Regions from separate parts of the Homo sapiens genome. Here region 2 is linked to region 1. The links come from fine-mapping of genetic effects on gene expression. A gene starts in region 1. The other region holds a variant in brackets. All regions are shown on one strand. Distances are between the middles of the regions.

Region 1 (2,924 bases):
ACAAGTTGTTTACAGGCATATCAAGATGTTGATGACCCCAGTTCTTAGGCAACTGGGTACAAACTGGAACGGGTGAAGCTAGTTCTTTCAGCCTAGTCACTTATGCCCAAGATCAGCCTTATCATTGTACAAATATATTAGTCAGAATAAGCTAACTCTTTGTATCAGTTATCTACTGCTGTGTAAGAAACCCAACCTAAAACTTAGTGGCTTACAGCAATATTCATTTTATTTGTTTATGTGTTCTGTGGGTCAACAGTTTGGACTATGTTTAGCTAGGTGGTTTTGCTAATCTTGCTTTGGGTTGCTTACAGAGTTGTGGTCATCCAGCAGCTTTTCTAAGACTAGACTTTCCATTATGGCCTTTTTCACGTCTTGCCCTTGGTGCTGGTGGATGATTGGGCCATAGTTGTCAGTGGGCTAGCCTAAGCTTCTTTACTTTGTGGAAGAAGAATTCTCAGCAGCAAAACAGGCTAAGCCTTAATGCACAAACACCTTTCAAGCCCCTGCTTATCTCGTATTTGCTGATGTCCCAATGGCCAAAGCAAGTTACATAGCCAAAGACAGAGTCCATGTGGGAAGGAAGAATACAAGGGTGTGAACAGAGGAATGTGTGATTCATCAAAGGCCATACCTTTGATGAATTCAACAATTTACCATAATGTTACAAAAAAAAATCTTCCCAAATCTCAGCAGTTTACCACAACTAAGAATTATTTCTTACCCATGTCATATTCCAATGTGGGTTGGTGAGGACACTCTATCACACTCGTTCAGGGAATCGGGAACCTGTTATCTATCTAGTGGTTCCACCGTTGTCTAAGAACTTCCAGAAGACCAGGAAAGACAGAGAAGGGAAGATTCAAGGAAGGTGTTATAGACCAATCCTGGAAGTGGTATACATCAGTTCCAGCAACATTCCAATGGCCGGAACTCAGCCATGTGGCCCCCAGCTAACTGCAGGAGAGTTGGGAAATATAATGCCTAGGAAGAAAAGATACTTCTTGTCACCAAATATTCCGCCCCCTTCTTACCACACACAGAATACACATATACCCTCCCCAGACACCTGGAATTCTATCTAGTCACTGCATCCAGGATCTGTTGTTGATACACAGTCCTCTTTATTAGATCCAGATGTATATCCTCATTGCCAGGTAACTCATGAACTATGTAAATATGTACTACATACCTGCCCCCACTCAGCTACCCTGTGTAGCGTGATAGAGCAAGGGTGGCATACTTGCATTAAAATCTCCCATTCAGAAAAGGGAAGAATGCAAGACACACAACAGTGGCTCATTCTTTAGTATATGTATTTTTTATGATATTTTTCCAAATATTGCATGGGAAATATATACACTAAAAATTATTCGTTTATCTGAAATGCAAATTATTAAGCATTCTGTATTTTTATTTGCTAAATCTGGCAACCCTCCTCCCACTAAAATATAAACTCCATGAAGGTAGGAACCTTGGCTCTCTGGTTCTCCAATGTACATCGAAGGCGTGGCATAATGCCAGGTCCACAGTAGAAGCCCATACATGCTTACTGCAGGAATTAATGAAGGACTAAACGAAGTAGCAAGTGAGTGAATAAGAAGATGAGGAGCGACCCTTGGTGGGCGGCGCGGGAAGAGAACCGCACCATAGCTCCGCAGACAGCCTCCTTTAGGCGCGCAGCGGCGGCCGCGCTGAGGTCACGGGCGCCGGCCCTGGTGACGTCATTACGCCCGCGCTCCTCGCCTGGCCGTGATATCAATGGCGCAGGCTTCACTTCTGCTGTGGCGGTGACTGAGGCCTTTCTGGTGACCTCAGCCCAACACAGGCCGTCTCCGGAGCTTCCCGGTAGTGGCCCCGGATTCCCACGGTCTTTGTCATTGGCTGTCAGCTAGCAGGCCTGGCCGCTCCCGTGCGGAGAGACCATCTCTTCAGGGCAATGTCCAGGCCGAGCAGCGTCTCCCCGCGGCAGCCGGCTCCTGGCGGTGGCGGAGGCGGCGGCCCCTCGCCTTGTGGCCCTGGGGGCGGCGGCCGGGCCAAGGGGCTGAAGGACATTCGCATTGATGAGGAGGTGAAGATCGCAGTCAATATCGCGCTGGAGCGCTTCCGATACGGGGACCAGAGAGGTGAGGTTCCGGACAGGGACCATGCTGGCAGTCAGGATACCCCCCTCACCCCAGCGCCCCCCAAACGGCGGCCCACCGAGTGATGGGGGTGCCTCCGAAGAGGGAGGGAAGACCCGGGCCACCGTCCGGGGCGGGCCTCAGCGGCGGCACCCGGGTCTGGAACGCGGCTGTTGGCCCTGCGGTGGAATGCGAGGTGCTCTGCGGATCAATGGGGTTATGGGCACTTTGCTCCCTAGCTGAAAGTGTTTTTCCCCCGCGTCTTTCAGCAGCCTTGGGCGGTTAAGCCACCGTGTTTCAGATATTGGTTAGCCCTAACCCTTTTTAAGGGGGTGTCACCTAATTGTGGCACGTTTAAGCTACAGATGTAGAAGAGCAGAAAGAAATCAAACATATAAATAAATGCACCAGCAATACGTTTGGACCCTGAAGCATCACGCTACCCACTTAAATTAAACTTGTTTGGCACACGAAGCATCTTCCACACCTCTTGAGGTTAGATAGCCACTTGTCTTGGGTCATATAATGCAGAACCAGCAACTGACCTGCGGTGACCTGTGCAGTCTGTTGAGGGCTCATTCGGACCTGCTGGCTTAGTTAGGGGACCTCTTACTCTGGAATCTTATAGTCCAAAACGGGGAATGTTCTAGACAGAGAGATTCTAAATTCACATTAAAAAAAGAGAAAGCCTCAGCAATATATAACAAATCCCTCTGAAATAGTGAAATACGAATTCTGTACAGTTTTGAAAGCAAAGACAATGGAGTTTCATGTTGAGAATTCATAATATTTGAACATATC
Region 2 (2,924 bases), 51 kb after region 1:
GCTTATGTGTGATTTTCTGTTCCTCCTGGGAGAAAATTCACAATCCTTAACAAGAGCGTAAATTGCCTGTTCCTGCCTGTGTCTCCAGTCACAGGAAGGAAGGAACAGGTGATTTCTTGTTACTTATCCTCTCTTACACCATTGGTTTTAGTTTCTCAAGCACGTCTTTTTTCCTTCTGCCTTACAGCTTTCACAGGTATCTACTCTCTCCTTAGATTGTTTCCCCTTATTCCTTATATAGTTACTCCTACTCAATCTTTACATCTTAGTTTAAGTGTCTTTCTTCAGGAAAACTATCTGTAACTTCCCATGGTCTCCCTCTCCCACCCTTTTCTGAACTTGCTTAAATCATATTTACTTATTTAGCTCCCTATAGCCTTCATAGCACTGACGATAATCGTAATTAAGTAGTTAATTATATAATTAATTATTTAAAGTCTGCTTATTCATATTACAGTGTAAACTCAATGAGAATGGACACTTCCTTCTGTCCCCTTCTTTTTCTCCAATTTGCACAGGGCCTTGCACTTAGAAAGCACTTAAATATTTGCTGAGTAGATAAAATATTCTAGAATGTAGTAAGTATAAAGGGGGGAAAAGATTTTTTTTTTTTTGGACAGTGACTATGAATGTTATGTATACGAACAGTGTGAGGAGATGTTGCCAATGGGAGCAATGGCAATCTTGGTATAAGTTGATTGAAGAGGGTATTTATTAAGGTTCTGGCATCTAGGGCAAAGTATGAGCTCATCTTTTACAGAAAGACATTGTTCCTTCTACTGTTCATTCTAATCAGAGACTCTACTAGTCTGTGTTTGGGAACTGTAGTTCCCATGATTTCTTTAAATGTGTAGGTTAGTATTCTTTTTAATTTTAAAAAATTATTTACTGTTTTGGTTTATAGGAACTTTGCTTACATACCAAGCTGTTAGCCCCAGTTAATTGTCCCATTGCTGATTTTCTTATGAAAGCTCCTGAACCTCCACCAGCTTTAATTGTAAGAAATGCTGTACAAATGCTTAAGGTTGGTGTCTTCATAGTTTTATTTTACATGACATTTTTACTTGAAATTTTAAACTAAAAGGAAATATGTCTTAACTAATTTTGTATAATTATTTTTTATTTTTGTCCTCCTGCATGTGTCCAGATAAACTAATTTTGTACTTTTAAACAATTATCTTAAATGATCATGTACTTTAAATAATATTGTCATGTATGAAACAGTAGATATAGTTCTTTTATATAGTATAATAGAAACGAAATATATTTTTATGAGATGTAGTAGCAAAAGAAAATCTATATTCTTATTTCTCATTTAGGGGTTTTTAATTATGTGTTTTGATTAAACAGTTTGCTCACATCAAAGTCTGTTCTGTCTCCTTTTACTTAGACAATAGATGCAATGGATACATGGGAAGATCTGACTGAACTTGGGTATCATTTGGCTGACTTGCCAGTAGAACCACATCTTGGTAAAATGGTCTTGTGTGCTGTTGTTTTAAAGTGTCTGGACCCCATCCTTACAATTGCTTGCACACTAGCTTATCGAGATCCTTTTGTACTACCTACTCAGGCCTCTCAAAAACGTGCAGCTATGCTTTGTAGGAAACGTTTTACTGCAGGAGCTTTCAGTGACCATATGGCACTTCTCAGAGCATTCCAGGTACTATTACTGTCATTTTATTTCTGAAGACGTTGCTGGGTAAACAC[G/A]TTTCTGGGGCAAATGTAGGAATTTTAAAAATAATTTATAAATTTTAAAATTGCATTAATTTTGTTTCATTATGAAGTCACATTAATAGTCCTGAAAAATATCTTCTTGCTGTTGTTATGTTAAAATTAAAACAGTTTTGCTCTTTTTTCCCATTTTCTCCTTATAGGAATATATGTGTGTATTTGTATATATATTTATTTGTGTTTATGCTTCTATTACCAGGTTTCTTTAAATCATGTCTTGGGCAAGGAATGTTCTAAAATTTCAGTTAAGAAATACTGTATACTATTTAAAGTACATAGAATAAAGCTTATAAGAAAATTATATTGATGTAATATCTATCGATTTTTCTTAGAGTTCAGCCTTTTTCTTGTTTGCTCAAGACACTATGCTGAGAACTTAATTTTGTAAAGCAAAATACAAAAATCACTTAAAAACCTTTTAAGATAATGGTAATGGCAAGTTGAGGAAAGAGGCAAATGGAAAAGAAAAGATGGGGAAAATAGGATCCTGGGGAAGACAAATTAAATGTAATTTAGAATTTCAGATATGTGGGGAAGAATATGTTATTTCTTGAAAACATAGGCATTGTATTTATTCTCAAATCTTCTTGAATGTCGACTGTGTCTATACATTTTTTTGTTGTTGTTTTTTGAGACAGTCTTGCTCTGTCACCCAGGCTGGAGTGCAGTGGCACAGTCTTGGCTCATTGCAACCTCAGCCTCCCAGGTTCAAGCAGTTCTCCTGCCTCAGCCTCCCGAGTAGCTGGGGTTACAGGCACCCACCACCATGCCCAGCTAATTTTTGTGTTTTTAGTAGAGACAGGGTTTCACCATGTGGGCCAGGCTGGTCTCGAACTTCTGACCTCAAGTGATCTGCCTGCTTTGGCCTCCCAAAGTGCTGGGATTACCATGTGTGAGCCACCATGCCCAGCCATATTTTTTAAAAATCTAACTTTGTTTATGCAGAAAGTACTCTTTTTCAGACACAGAAGATTTTTTCACCACATATAATTTTCAAAAATAATTACAAGCTCTTTTGTGAGTATTGATCAATGGATAACTCATTGTTATTAATTGGGTATATTAAATACCATATATTATAGTAGATAGTTGAGTGAGAAGTAGAGGGAGATTTAGAGTAGAATTTCTATCTGTTCTTTGCTTTTCCCCCAGCTCCTTCAAAAGCAGAGAGGATAAATTATTGCTTCAGT

Alleles and levels. Alleles are on the strand shown, and positions count from the first base shown. SD is a standard deviation of normalised expression in the study named.
For the expression in aorta of the gene that starts at base 1,738 in region 1, A is the high allele of the variant in region 2 and G is the other (small effect, 0.35 SD a copy in GTEx).

What was found. PIP is the estimated chance that this variant, and not a neighbour inherited with it, causes the effect.
Region 2: its variant is the best candidate, but not a certain one, in a credible set for the expression of YTHDC2 in aorta (GTEx, PIP 0.54).

What each region holds. Positions count from the first base shown.
Region 1 is chr5:113,511,957-113,514,880 of GRCh38, forward strand. It overlaps YTHDC2 (YTH N6-methyladenosine RNA binding protein C2), which reads left to right and starts at 1,738. Exons shown (of 30, transcript NM_022828.5): 1 at 1,738-2,126. The coding sequence starts at 1,940. LOC124901046 (a long non-coding RNA gene) reads right to left here and starts at 1,702. Exons shown (of 2, transcript XR_007058905.1): 1 at 1,475-1,702; 2 at 1-984. RefSeq lists enhancers at 1,494-1,543, 1,540-2,041 and a silencer at 1,994-2,223.
Region 2 is chr5:113,562,469-113,565,392 of GRCh38, forward strand. It overlaps YTHDC2 (YTH N6-methyladenosine RNA binding protein C2), which reads left to right. Exons shown (of 30, transcript NM_022828.5): 19 at 905-1,024; 20 at 1,391-1,663. Among named protein-coding and RNA genes, the nearest start is that of YTHDC2, 50 kb to the left of the region's middle. The variant G/A (reference allele first, on the strand shown) is at 1,711.